Homo sapiens: one gene and its partner. The protein of the gene in region 1 interacts with the protein of each later gene in a pairwise test. Each region holds a gene or a part of one and is shown on either strand. Other genes may lie near its edges.

The links. The genes of interacting proteins can lie anywhere in the genome.
Region 2: the proteins of EFHC2 (region 1) and HDAC4 interact in binary tests that used the Homo sapiens proteins (3 or more experiments, as listed by UniProt).

What each region holds. Positions count from the first base shown.
Region 1 is NC_000023.11:44,172,482-44,179,810, forward strand, and holds part of EFHC2 (EF-hand domain-containing family member C2), read right to left. Parts: intron 6,084-7,329; coding exon 5,886-6,083; intron 5,728-5,885; coding exon of another isoform or gene 5,726-5,727; intron 3,904-5,725; coding exon 3,811-3,903; intron 1-3,810. UniProt on the Homo sapiens protein: Microtubule inner protein (MIP) part of the dynein-decorated doublet microtubules (DMTs) in cilia axoneme, which is required for motile cilia beating.
Region 2 is NC_000002.12:239,131,807-239,139,135, forward strand, and holds part of HDAC4 (histone deacetylase 4), read right to left. Parts: intron 2,838-7,329; coding exon 2,721-2,837; intron 2,638-2,720; coding exon 2,439-2,637; intron 2,433-2,438; exon of another isoform or gene 1-2,432. UniProt on the Homo sapiens protein: Responsible for the deacetylation of lysine residues on the N-terminal part of the core histones (H2A, H2B, H3 and H4).

The sequences.
Region 1 (7,329 bases):
GCAGGAGCAGCTCTGGTGGACACCGAGCCCATGTTTTTCTACCCCATGTCCAGTGCGTTAGCACAGGACAAGTCTTTGAGGCTGCAAAAATGAACGAGATCTAGTCCCTACCCTCAGGAGCTCAGATAGAGGCAAAGGTTTAGAGTATCTTAGGCAGTTGTAGTTCTACTTCCATTAGAGGCTCATCTTGGCCTGGAGCACAGTCTTTCAGTGAGAGACTCTCAGAGTTTATACTTATGAAATGAGGAATAATGCCTACTGCCAATTAAAATGTACCTTTTAATATGCTCAAAAATTTACAAAATATTCTAAGGCCCTTAGCACTACATCAATACAAAGTATCACTCCTATTATTAATGGATAATCGCTACCACTATATAGAACATTTAAGTCTGATGCTCTGTGCATTAATGAAATGAATTTGCTTGGTAAGTAAGGTGACCTTATACCAGCTCCCACAGCACAAACTGACAGGGGCTGAGGTAACCAGGTACAAAAAGGTTTTGAAGTCCTGATTCCAGTTTGAGTTATGTTAACATAATAAGGAAAAGATCAAGCTGAATTATAAGAAAAATGGGAATGGAGTAGAAGGAAAATCCTGGTACCAAAATATAGGGTTAGGAGAAATACATGGGTAACAATTACTGGGTGAAAGAAAGCATCCAACCCTTTAGCCATATTGTTTTTCATCTCCTGATCTGAATTTACACAGCAGGGTTACACGGCTGCTCAGCAGCTGCCCAGCTCCATTCCAAGGCAGGTAAAACTATTCCTGGGCAAGAGCATGCATTGAACAAAATCAACAAGCTCCATGCCTGCCTCCCACGGGAGACTGTAGACGTCAGAGGGGGCTCTGGCTTAGCGTGCCATAAGGAGGGCTGTGCAGAAAGAGACTCTGGTCAGGGCTCTGTAAAGCCCTGTGGAGTCTGTGGGGAACAATAAGAATGCAGAATATAAATGTAAGCTGCAGGCTGATGGGCCCATTAGGAATTAGGGCAGTCTTTGAAAGGAATCTGCAGAGATGATGCAAAACACTAAGCATGTGACCCAAATCATGGCAGGGCATATTGGAGGGAGAGGGGAATGGGAATGAGACATTTTCTAATCTGATTAGTCTGAAGTTTCCCCTGAGTGTGGAGAAGGGTCACTGCACAATTAGAGGCAAAGTTAGACTGAACATGGTCTGCTTAGCAGCTGAGCGGGATGACCTCCTCAAAGCTAAGCTGGGCTTGGAGACAGATGTGTTCAGAGACTGAGATGACTTCGAAGCAAGTTCTGAAACAATCTTTTTGCATTTAATGTCAAATCGTAAAGGCAAAGACAAAACAGTCTGCTGAGAGAATGAGAGGATGATGACTTGGTGGCCTCAGCACTGGATAAGAAACATGTAGGTCCTCCAGAGGCCAGGCTCCCACATTACTGGACTTTCCAGGACAACTCATCCTTAAGACCATCAAAAGATAATCTAATAAACATCCACAGCTTCCTGACTAGAAGACAGCTTAATGTGTGAAAGGCATTCAGATCCAATTGTTGAAAAACATGGCTTCCTCTACATAGAAAGACACAGGTTTCTTCCAGTTCATTTCTAAGTCTGAGTGTGTGGTCTATGGTCCCTGACTTAAATTTCTCTCCTAGTCCTCAATCAATTCTTTGCACCAGGTACTGTGCTGGGTACTTTATGTATGTTATCTCAATTAATCCTCTGAACCACTAGGAAATAGGTACTGTTACGTCATTCGAGAGATAAGGAATCTGAGGTTCAGGCAGGTCAAAACCCTTGCACAAGATCACACAGCTAATAAGTGGACTCAAAGAATTTAAGAGATGGGAGTGGAGGAGGGGGGTAAAATTGTCAGGATGTGACAACCCATTGGTTATTTATAGGTGGTAAATCACACAGAAGCAGTGTCTGCATCTGAATGAATCGAAGTTCAAGTCACAACTCTTCATTCCAAGGTAAGGGATAAAGAGACACATAAATAGCACTGTGAGAATTCTGAGCAGGAGATAATCACTCTGATTATCAGCCAAACGAATGCAACAGAGCTTCATGGATATGGTGCCACTTGAAATGGGTCTTGAAGGAAGAGCAAGCTTTCAGCAAGTGAAAACCATTGGGAGCTATTGCCTACTGATGAAATAGCAAGGGAAAAGGCCAAAAAAAAAAGGGGGGGGGAGGGGGAAGGCAGGAGGTATATGTGTAATATGCTAAACGGCCCATGTGGCTGGACTACTGGGAACAGGAAGGGGAGTTTTGGGAGTGGGGGATGATATCTGTGAAGAACTCTGAGTCCAAGGCCTGCCTACTTCATCTCAGTTCCTTCACGGCAGGATCCCTCACACGGCTGCTAGCAAATAAAAGCAAATAGAGTTAAACAAAAACAAAATCAAAACAAAACAAATAGAACTGATAATCTAGAAAATTATTCCAGGTTGATTCAATGCACATACACATCCAACTAGATTTGCCCTCTTCTGGGTTTCCCTCCTGATACCTTGGACCCTAGTTCCCTGACATAGAATTTGGCTTTATCTGTTCCTTTGGTTTCTCCTTTTGTCTCAAACAAGGACTCCCTACTTCAGACCCTATTTGAGAACAATGCTCCAGCTGCGAACCCTAAGCCCCACTATGGAGAAGGAGCTTAATTCAAAGTTAAAGAGCTGGTCCTTCCTTAGAGAGCAAAGAGACACCACAGAAGGTTTGTGAGTAAAAGTGCAATAAGATGACATACATTTTTGCTCTTAGAAGGTACTTAGCTGCTATATGTAAAGATGGATTTAAACATTTAGACACTGGTGGATGAAAGACCAATGTGGTGGCACCGCAGTATTTAAGAAGCAATGTGGGTCAGAACAAGAATGATGATAGTGGAAATGGAGAGGAGAGAGTAGAAGCAAGCAGTAAGGAGGAGGTAGAACTGTCAAGACATCCTAATCTACTGGCTATTTGTAGACAGTAACTCAAAATGATTAGAAGCAGAGGATGTGCATTTGAAAAGTTCAGGATTCAAATCAGAGCTCTTCTTCTTCTACACTATGTGACTTTGGGCAAAATACCTCATCTCTCTAAACCTCAGCATCCTTACGTATGAGATAAGAAGGATAACAGTTTCGACCTCACCAAGCTGTTCTCAAAAAGTAAATGAGATAATATATCCAAAACAATGATCACAATGCCTAGAACACAGCTGAAAATGTCAGAATTATCAAGATATATAAGTCAGAGGAGGAGCTAGAGTGAGTGATGCTATAGGAAGCATAAGAGATGGCCAGAGTCTAGGTGGCTGAGAGGGACATGCCAGGAAATCAAAAGTCAGGTTCAACAGGAGAACTGATGTGTTTTAGAAAGCAGTTCACCATGCTCTCATTTTATAGCATCATAATCTCTATGTTTTACATCTGGTGCTCTATCAGGACAGAGCCCCATGCTAATAACCCTAGGTTCTCTTACTGCATGTCTATAGCTATCAGGAACTGCTGCTTTGAAAAACCTGCCCTGAATTTTACATCTAATGTCCTCCTAACCAACAAAGTTGTGTATTTCATTTTGTCCCAGGAATCTGTGGATCTATAAGTGTGTATTCATGTTAAAAAGATAAAATAATAATTTGTAATAGGCTCTCTAACATTCAAAATCAAGACAAACTTTTCCTTCTGTAACACTTAAATGGAGGCAGGTCACCAATAATATAATCAAAACAGTTAAGGGTAAATCAAGGGTAATTAAAGGGAGATGTAAAACCAGGAATGGTCCCCCAAATAAAACTATGCAGGACAATCCCTATCAAGAGTGGAACTCTAACTTACCTTGACAATAAGGATTCTAGAAGATCATCACTCAAAGGTAATCTGGAGGATTTGCACAGCCTTTTAATGTCTTTGGTGGGTAATACATTTTTTCTGCATTAAAACAACGTAAATGAGCTTTTATATACCTTGTATACCTTTAGTAATAATTACATACTATAGGAAAGAAAATACATTTGTGATGTTTCCTGAGAATGTACACATGGAAGTATGAAAATTGGTATTGGAATTCACAATAAGGAAGAACAGTCACATTTCATTTCATCAACTTTTTCTATTTCAGAGGCCACCAGACTCCATCCTTACAAAGGCTTTTCCTTCAAGATGCAGATTCTTGGTTGGTGACAGTACAGCCTATTAAGGCTACAGCCACAAGTGTTGCTCTAAGTAATTGATCTGCATTCTTGACCACTAGTCAAAAATGGTTCTGATATTTGAAAACATCTCTTAATTTGACAGGCATCTAGAGCCTCCAACACAAGTATGATATGACTTGAGGGTGTTTTTCTGTTCTTTTCCTTGGACCCAAACCTTATCACCTGGAAGCCCCAGCTGGGGCCTCAATATTCACTTCAATTTTTTCAGATGCTAGCAGTTTTCTCTAGAGCAGCCCAAAAGTCATTTTCTCCAGTCTTATGGGGGCAAAGACATTCTTGTCCAATGTTCTCATTCAGCCAACACTTTTCCAGGCATCGGGCAAAATTAGAACCAACAGGAAAGAAAGTTGGCTCTTTTCTTTGCAATGAGAATGTTTATATCTAGAATCAAAGCTTGATGGATCTGGAAGAACCTCAGGCTATCTGGTCAAGCAGCCCCATTGTTCCTAAGAAGTGTTCCTTGAATGAAGGAGGGCCACACTTCTCACTCTGGGGAAGGGGGCAACACCAGGGTGGAAGGCAGGGCCAGGGCCATGCAAAACTCAGGCCACACATCTTCTAGGAAGCTTGGGAAAGCTTAAAGAGTCAAGGAAAAATACCATCTTTATAAAAACTCAAAGAGGATGCATTATGGATTAATAAAAAAAATGATTATTTCTAAGACAAACTATGGGACCTACACAGATATTCAGGGAATGCAGTTGGCCACTTGGGTTCAGACTTCAAGTTTGGGGATAAGGCAAGAAGTCACAAGGAAGAGAGATGGCAGTGGTGTGCAGCAATACGGATTAGAAGCTAGAGCAAGAACTAAGATTTTTCTAATTCCAGATGAAATCAGTAAATTTATATTTCTCCCCACTGTATAAGGTCTGTAAGATGAATGCAAAAAAAACACATTAAGTTGTTTGCATCCAGTTGTATGTAACAATGACTTAATGAAGCTCAACACGCACACAATCAATGTATAAGAAATAGCTTATACTGAACTTCATTATTTTCAAGAAGAAATAATTTCAAAGAAATTCTACAGAATGTTTGCTTGAAAATTCCATTTTCTATTTATTATAAAAGTTACATTTATAAATCCCCATCAGTACTAAAATAATGTAAAAAGACGACATCTCAGAATTAACCCTCCTAACATTTTGATTTACTATGCTTCAGTTGAAAGCTTCTAGAAACAAATGAAAAGAACATGCAAGGGAGAAGCCTATTCTTTCAAAGATACAGGGCCTCCCCTATTCCGTCAACAAGACTAGCCTGGCCAACATGGTGAAACCCTGTCTCTACTAAAAATACAAAAAAAAAAAAAATTAGCTGGGTGCGGTGGTGCGAGCCTGTAGTCCCAACTACTCAGGAGGCTGAGGCAGGAGACTCTCTTGAACCTGGGAGGTGGAGGTTGCAGTGAGCCGAGGTTGCGCCACTGCACTCTAGCCTGGGCGACAGGGCCAGATGCCATATCACACACACACACACACACACACACACACACACACACACAAGCTCTCCATCACTGGGAAATATCTGTACCTAAATACTTCTCCGAAAATGATTTAAGGTGTTTGTGCTAAATAGTAGAGTATGAGTATGATGACACATGTCTATTTTCTTTTTGCACTTTTTGATAAAATAGAAATTCCTTCATTACTCAGGTTCACAGAAATGTAAATGATTAGAATCAATAAAACAAAAGCTTACTTTTCTCGATCTTCATACACACAGGAATAAATGAAAGTGTCGAAATTCTCAAACATATTTTTCTTGAACTTTTCGTGGGCCAGTGCGATTAAGAAATCCATATCTGAACATGTGCCCTCAGGCACACGGTAGTGACGTGCAATGGTTACAAATTCTTGCTCTGCAAGGTTTCCAACAGTCAAAGACATCAATATGTCTCTGTAATAAAAATGGAAAAACATTTATAAACTGATATCTAAGAATACAGTATTTTACATCTCCTTCTATTTAAAAGATCCAAATTCCATTTTACAAAACTTTTACCAACTGTACAGAGGTCATGTGATTTTTTTAACTTAATTTCTCTTCTTAATTTGGGAGCAGCAGGAAGGCACCAATGCCAGAATGGAAAATCATAGGCACTGTAGCTTATAAATAAAATGGCATTTTGCCCAGAGTTAAACACCTACCAAATAACAGCCTGCAACCAGGAAGTAAATTTTTAAAGGCTTTGAATGGTCAAAAAACCTATTACTAAGTACATGACTTTATTCAATGCCTATTAATCTTCCTTACACAAAATAGTAACAGGCTTGGGTTTCTGGTTTCCTGGGACATAAAATTTGTAAGTTAATAAATTAGAAAGGTGTTTTGGGATGGGGAAAGCAATCATGCACATTTCTGTAATAAAAAGTAAAACTGGACACACCCTGGCAGTGAGAAAAAAAAACAAGAGAAAAAAAAATGAAAAGTTAAAAGACCTATGTAAGCGTACAGCTGTCTGCATCTTTAGAAGGCAAATGGTACTGAGATTATTAGGCAGAGCTAAAAAAAAAAAACTAAACAACAACATATCAATGAAGACGACTCAAGGCCTAGCAAATTGGCTGAATTGTTTTCAATGTAACTCTGTATGAAAGCCATAAACTAAGCAGCATACACCAGACAGAATTATATCAAAATGATTAAAATGCAAAATGTTATGGTGGTTACAGGAATAAGCTTCCACTGTCTAGAAAATTTATTTACTGGAAATAATTCAGTTCCCAAGAATCCTGAATAAACAAGGGAATAGAAAATTTTATTTGGCCTTCTGCTAGAAAGAGGTCTTTCAGAATAAATGCTTTCAGTTCTTTTAGGTATTTCTGGACATTATCATCTAATAATTCTAGATTCTCCTAGTCAAGAATTTCCATAGAGTCTAGGAAAGCCCACAGCATTGATGTTGACCTATCTAAAGGAAATTCATTTAATCTACATCTACTTCTCAAGTTTCCTGGGTTGTTTTGTTTTGTTTAAATTTGGTTTTGCTTTTGTATTTTTAATGGGAAATGAATGCAAAATCCAACCAAGATGATCCCAGAATTTCAGCAAGTCAGGTCAGACAATCAATTAGTAATATTGGCAGGAGGCTCGCTATATGGAAAACACTGTAAAAGGCTCTCTGGCATTTGAACTTTTCAGA
Region 2 (7,329 bases), on another chromosome or scaffold:
GACTGAGAAACTGAATTCTAATTCTGACTTATTTATTTAACAGCTCCCCGTGGCTGGTGGCTCCTGACCTGGCCAGTACTGCTCTAGACAGCGTGGGGGCCTCCAGGCCTTCAAGGAGAGTCCGGTGGATACAGGAGGACAGACCGGAGGGGAGGAACCTGCACAGGAGGCTTCTTCCCACAAGAAGATGGGGCAATCCCAGCGGGTTCCAAATGAGGGCCCTGCTCATGGCGGGGCTGGGGGAGGGCCCCTGAGACACTGAGGACGGACAGGGGCTGGCTGGGGGAGTGAGAGAGCATGGGAGGTGGCAGGTTAAGAACAAGGCAATGACTACAACAATGATGCCAACACCTGCAGGGGCACATGAGTGCACAGCCCACTTAACCCTCATCAGGCTCACGGGGGCGGACCGCTTAGTATCCCCACTTCCTAGATGGGAAAACAAGGCACACAGAGCATAAGCGGCTTCCCAGGGTCATGGAGCAGGAGAAAGCTGGGACAGAGGCGGCTGTGTGGCTGCACTACGCTGCACACGTGACACTGGCTCCGAGGCTCCCTGCCAGGGGGTTTGCAGGATGAGCTGCTGGCAACCTGGGGAGGCTGTGCAGGAGAGAAGGGGCTTGCAGGGTTTTGGAGGTGGCGGCATAGGACTGGAGGGGCTTGCTGGGCACAGGCGTAAAGCAAGGCCAGAGCAAGCTGGGCAACCATGCATGGGCCCCCTGGTGGCACAGAGCCTGGGCAGGGCACGGTGGGCAGGTCCCCATGCCAACGAGCAAGCTGCACCTGGGAGGAAAAGAGGGATGAGCGCACACAGGGAAGAAGCAACGCCGAGTTCAGTGCGTTTCTCAGAGAGGTGAGACCCATGCACACTCGATATCCAGGTTCTATCAAAAAGGCTGTTTTCCAAAAACCTGATACACAAGATTACGCATGCTATTTAATCGTGCAGAATAAACTGATTTAGAGAAGGAAAGAAGATAAGTGACAAACATCTCTGACGAAGTGAATCCCAGGAATCCTGAAGATCAGGCACATTTTACGTTTTTAAAGACAGGCGAGAAACTCAGGTGTCCTTCACTACCCACACTCGTGCCAGCTGATCTAGAGCATCCAAGAGACTCAGACGCAACCTCAGATACATTCCTCCAGAGAGATCCGCGTGCCTGCCACTGTGGCCGCAGCTCAGAGAGGCACTGTGAGGGCTGCCCCCTCCCTCGTTACACCACGGGCTCCTCTGCTCTGGACAGGCAGGGACACGAATTCAAGCTTCTGGAGAAACAAACAGAAAGGGGCTCAGGCACAAAACAAAGATTGCGCCATTTGGCTTCTGGGCAAAGAAGGAATAAGAAGGAATCCTCTCTGTCTAAACAGAGACACATGGGCAGCACAAAACAAGAAAACACCAAAATCCACCAGACTAGTCAAGCCAGAGGCCCAAGCCCACCCAAGCCAGCCCCTAGCCCCACGCATCCTGCAGCGCAGCCTCCTACAACACGCCAAGCCCCTGAGTTTTCACCAAGTTCACTGCCAGAGTTTCACAGGTGCAGCTCTGAGGGTATTTCAGCTTTCAATTGGCAACAACAGGTTTCCAGGAAGCCAAACACAAAGCTATGAAGATGTACAACGATGACCCGCACGGCAAGGGGGTAGGTAGCTGCTCCCTCATTTATTTATTTTTGAGACGGAGTCTCGCTCTGTTGCCCAGGCTGGAGTGCAGTGCCACCATCTCGGGTCACTATAACCTCTGCCTTCCAATTTCAAGCAATTCTCCTGCCTCAGCCTCCCAAGTAGCTGGGATTACAGGTGTGCGCCACCACGCCCAGCTAATTTTTGTATTTTTAGTAGAGACGGGGTTTCACCATGTTAGTCAGGCTGGTCTTGAACTCCTGACCTCACGTGATCCGCCTGCCTCGGCCTCCCAAACTGCTGGGATTACAGGTGTCAGTCACCGTGTCCGGCCGGTGTGCCCTCATTTCTGAAGTGACACTTTCACATTGCTGTTGCTATGTAATTTCATAAGGACGTTCCCATTTTCCTCTAAATTGTATTTTTCTAAATGTAACCACTCCCCCAGACAGTGCACATTTGTAAAAGTTCGCTAACACAAACTGACCACAAGAGTCGGTTCTGGGCTTCCAGCGCTGGCTCAGCTTGGTCCAGACAGAAACCCAAATCGCAAGAGCCGGTGGCCTCTCCCAAAAGGTGAGAAAGGGGAAGTGACTTCTGTTTCCACTCCATCTACCTGACTCTGGGAGTGAGGCATGGATTTTCACTGCAGTCACGGTGGCTACATCACGTGATGGGGATGTGTGTTTGGGAACTGTGGGGGTGGGACAGGCGTGCATTCCTGTCTCCTCCAAAGGCAGGCGAAGGCGGGGCACCATCCAGAGCGTGGGCAGCCTCAGAGCCTGGCTGCACCCAGGCCCATTTGTGCTCACCTGTGACGAGGGGTGCTTGTGCCGGCGGCTGCTCCAGTAAGACCATGTGCTGCAGAAGAGGGCTGTGCGCTGCCCCTCCGTCCCGCTCCAAGGGCGAGGTGCTCAGGTAGGGAGTGAGGTGGGTGCCGGGGAAAAGGGAGAGCCTCTGCTGGAGGGCGGGAAGGGTGAGTCTCTCGGCGTCCTGCTGGCCCGCCGTGCCCTGGAAAGCACAGCCAGGATGCTCGGGTGGAAGGACCCATCACCACCACCCCACACCACACGGACCCACGGGGGCTGACTTACCGCAGAGGGGCCGGTGGCAGGCAGGCCCAGCGTGATGTTGGGCAAGGATGGCGATGTGTAGAGGGGAAGTGGAGCGGCCGAGCCTTCTCGTGCCACAAGTCTGTGCGCCAAACTCGTCTGGGGACAGAACACACGATGACCATCACAGTCTGTCACGGCCAAACATCAGCAATATACACCAAGAAAAACAACGATGAAAACACCTGCACTGAATTCTGATATATGAGCGTAAACGTACATGTAACAAATGAGACAGCAATGAGAGCATGAGATTTCAACACGTGCCACAACATGAAAGCACAATTCACCACTCCAGTTTCCTCCTCCCGATACGAGTTCTTCTTCTGTCACCTTGTCCAGCATCATCTCGTTGATTTCTATTCAGTTTGATTATTTACCACAGAACAGTTAGAAGGAAATCTAGGCTAATATAGTTTACAATGCCGTTTTGCAGTTTCTAGGATAATATAGTTTACAATGCTTTTTTGTAGTTGGCAATGTCTTTCCAGACATAACATCAAAGGCAGAAAACAAAAAGGAAATAACATTTAACTGTACATTTAAAAATAACTATAAGGGTATGATTGGATTGTTTGTTACACAAAGGATAAGCACCGGAGAGGATGGACATCCCACACTTCGCATGACGTGATTATTACAAATTGCATGCCTGTATCAAAACATCTCATGTACCCCACAAATATATACATTATGTACCCACAAAAATTAAAAATAAAGAGAAAATCATAAAACAACTGCCTCTACGAAAGGTGGGCAATGATGACAATACTGGCCATGTATGAGGCAGACGAGGGTCAGCACAGAGAGCTTGCAAATCAAACAACTAACAGTGAGAAAAGCACGCGGTGAGGACCAGTGACGGCAGAGCTCAGGAAGGGGAAGGCGCTCAGGAAAACACATCATGGTCATCAAAAAAGGTATTCTGAAACCCAACAAATTGGCAAACACTTTTGAAACATGGTAATACCATCTTGGCCTAGAGGAACGGCGAACACTGTTGGGTGAATCACAAATCAGTTAGTGGCACCCTTTCTGCAGGACAATTTGGCAATCTATGTCAAAGGCCTTCAAAATCTGTCTAACCTTTGATGCTGGAGCTCCACTCTTGGGATGTAACGTTAAGAAATAAGGAGATGGCCTGATGCCCATGAAGCCTCCGCTGCAGGGCCGAGCACCCAGCAGGCATGGCAGAGCTATGCGGCTTCCCCGACACCTTGGTGTTAACAGAACGGAGGGGCATTGCACACCGGGATGCTCTGGGGGTTGGGAACGATCTAGCTGATTACTTGGACACTTGTTTATGATACATTAAGTTAGAAAAACAGGTTATAGATCATGTACCTTTTAAAGAATGGGCTTGGATAAAGCAAACACAAGCCAGGAGTAAAGATTAGAAGGCCACACAGGAAGAGTCAGCAGCAACAGTCTCCAAGGACTTGAACTACTGTGATATTTAACATCTTTTTGCTTGTAGAATGAACGTGTTTTGCTAAAAAGGACAATAGTTTATCACCACTATATCCCCTACACAGTAGCTACTCAAGGAATGTCTGCTGAATGAATGGGCAAACAAAGAGAAGGAATAAAATGTTGTTGTAATCATGCTAGTTAGTGGGGTTTGGCAGATAGAAATCCCCTTGCCAGAAGCTAACGTTAATAATGAATAGATAACAGATTTCATTATACTCTCTACCTCCATGACAGCAACGTTTTTAGCTCCCCCAGATGAATGAGAAAATGCCATGTTTGTCTTTCTGTGCCTGGCTTAGTTCACTTAACATGAGGGCCTCTAGTTCCATCTATGTTGCTGCAAATGTCAGGGTTCTATCCTTTTTGATGGCTGCATGGTATTCCACTGTGTACAGCACCACATTTTCTCTGTCTATTCATCCACTGAAGGACACTGAGGTTGATTCGACCTCTTGGCTATTGTGAAAGATCCATGGCTAAGACCTCAAAAGCACAGGCAACAAAAACGAAAACAGGCAACTGGGACTCTGCTCAACTAAAAAGCTTCTGCACAGCAAAGGAAGAGAATCACCAGAGTGAAGAGACGACCTGTGGGAAGGGGAAACATGTGCAAGCCATTCATCCGACAAGGGAGCAGTATCCAGAACATGCGGGAACTCCAGCAACTCACCAGCAAAACCTGAAGCAGCCAGTATAAAAGTGGGCCAAGGATCTGAAGAGACATTTCCCCAAAGACATATGACTGGCCATTGGGGATAGGAAGAAACGCTTCTCCTGACAAACACTTACACTCAGGCTGTTCCTACAGAACAGAAAGCCCGGCCTTCTCACTTAGGAGCAAACTCACGGCGCACCTCGCCCCAGAGGAAACCCTGCAACTCCCTTTAGATTTGCTCACATATTACATTGTGTAAGGAATGATTAAAGGGCTACTGAGGAAAACATTTTTCCTAGGCAATTTTTTTTTTGTCAAAAGTTAAAGAATTATCAGTAAGTTATGCTGTAGAGGAAATGCTTGTGTTATCATTTGGGAACAAAATAAGGAGACGTTCTAATGTTTGCAAAGTTTTCATTTCCTTTGTAAGCAAGGTTTTTTTTAAGCCCATTTCTGGAACTAAAGGAGGCTTCTGAGAATTTGTTCCTTGGAGATGCCGACTGGTCCACCTGAGAAATCGCAGGGCGTTCTGGCATCTGCTGCCTCGGGGCCGAGCCCTGCGGGAGGCATTCTGAGGCTGGCGCCCCCGGACCGCATCTCAGCATGTGCTCAGAGGGAAAGTCCGCGGGCCTGAGGTCAGAGCATCCAGGCACGCGTGTAAATAACAGCAGCAGCGGCCACAGAGGAGCTGTCCCCTTACGCACCTGGGCGACTTCCTCTCACTCTCTGAGCCCTGCCTCCTCCCTGTAGAGGAGGTGCCGGCACACTGGGCTTCCCTGGCCTGTAGAGGAGGAGGTGCCGGCACTCTGGGCCTCCCTGGCACTGTAGAGGAGGAGGTGCCCGGCACACTGGGCTTCCCTGGGTCCAGGGGGCCTTCAAGGTACAGTAGTGTTTCTAGGGACCCCAGGGTGAACAGAAAAGGCAGTGCTGAGAGCCAGGCTGGGAGGCCCCTGCTCCCCCCACATCCTCATCCACTCGAGACACCCCCTCTGACGGGCAAGCTCACTACACTCTGCACCACGTGAGAACGGAGAGCCAGCCCCTGGCCATGAAGCACAGGTGTTCTCACAGACCCGTCCAACTCTAGAGATACTGAAACCCAGAAAGGGCGCCTGGGTGTGATCCAACATGCAAAGGCTGCCCGTGCCCACTCTAATGAACATCTGATGTGGAACATGAACAATGGCACCTCTTGGTATTTCCTGTAACTCCTTCTACATGTTCTATTAATTTCCAGTAGCTTCATTTACGTATCGTGATTTCTAAAAATTAACACAGAACTGGAATGATGCAGACCCACCCAAACAAGGCACTGTTCCAATATTAACTACCATGTACATAAGTGCCTCATTTTAAATAAAAACATGTATCTAGGACCACAATCAACAAGATGCAACCAGTGTTAACCTCAGGGCAGGAAGTAATTTCTAGGTTGCATTATAAGGCTTATTACTGGTAGACCTCAGCTATGACCACAGCCATACAGAGGACTGTTAAAACTTCTAATCATCTAAATAAGTACTGAAGTTGGCAGGCTGAAGAAGACAGGTAATAAAAGAAATCGATGTATGAAGTAGAAAGAGTAAGAGAAATTGGGGATTAAGCAGCCTGGAGACAAAGGGCAAAATTCGTTCTGAGCAGTAATTCTAGTCTCTAAAAATGTTTATACATAAACGGTCTTGAAATTTGAAATGAAAATGCTAAACACTCATGCCTCTGTATCCCAGCTAAGATTTGCCAATCCTTTGGAAGGGCAGGATTCATTTCTAAATATTTAAGAAGGAAAGTCAATAACTATATTTAATAAATTATAGCCTTCTGTAAGTTGGAGAGAATTCAGAAAGAACCTCCCACTCAGTAGAACTCTGCCCCATGAAGCAGACACAGCATTTCCAGCTCAACTCATCAGAAAACTCACTGCTAAAGCGTACCCCTCCCACCCCTGCCCTGCAGTCAGGCCCACCCAGGCCCAGGGCACCACTCAGCCTGCGGGACTGCCTCTCTCTGCCTCTCTCTTCTTCCCCGTGCTCTGGGGGTGGCCTCTCCTTGTCAGTGGGGCATTGTGTGGAGTGTGGGGCAGGTCCTTGCTGCCTGCCTGGTTCTGTCCCTGGGCCTGGCACAAGGCGCTCGGGACACGTGTGGGATAAAGGCAGGGGGCGCAAAGGAGCTCAAGGAACACGGAGCGAGGTCCTCGGACCTGCTGCCCTGGAAAGCCTCCGAGTATGGTCAGTGTGCGACTCGGCCAGCCTGGGCGCCACTCCTCCCTGCCTTGCCACTCAGCTCCTGCGTCTCTGACATCTTTCCCACCTAGGGACTCCAAGCGTCCCCTGACTCCTCTCTAGCTTGCCAATGTCCCTCCCAGACTGTGGCACCACTTGGGGTCTGATGAAGGCAGGGGACCAGGGGTGCTGAGCTCTGCGGTCTGAGATGCCTGGTTCCCGTGATGCCTGGAAAAGTTCCCCG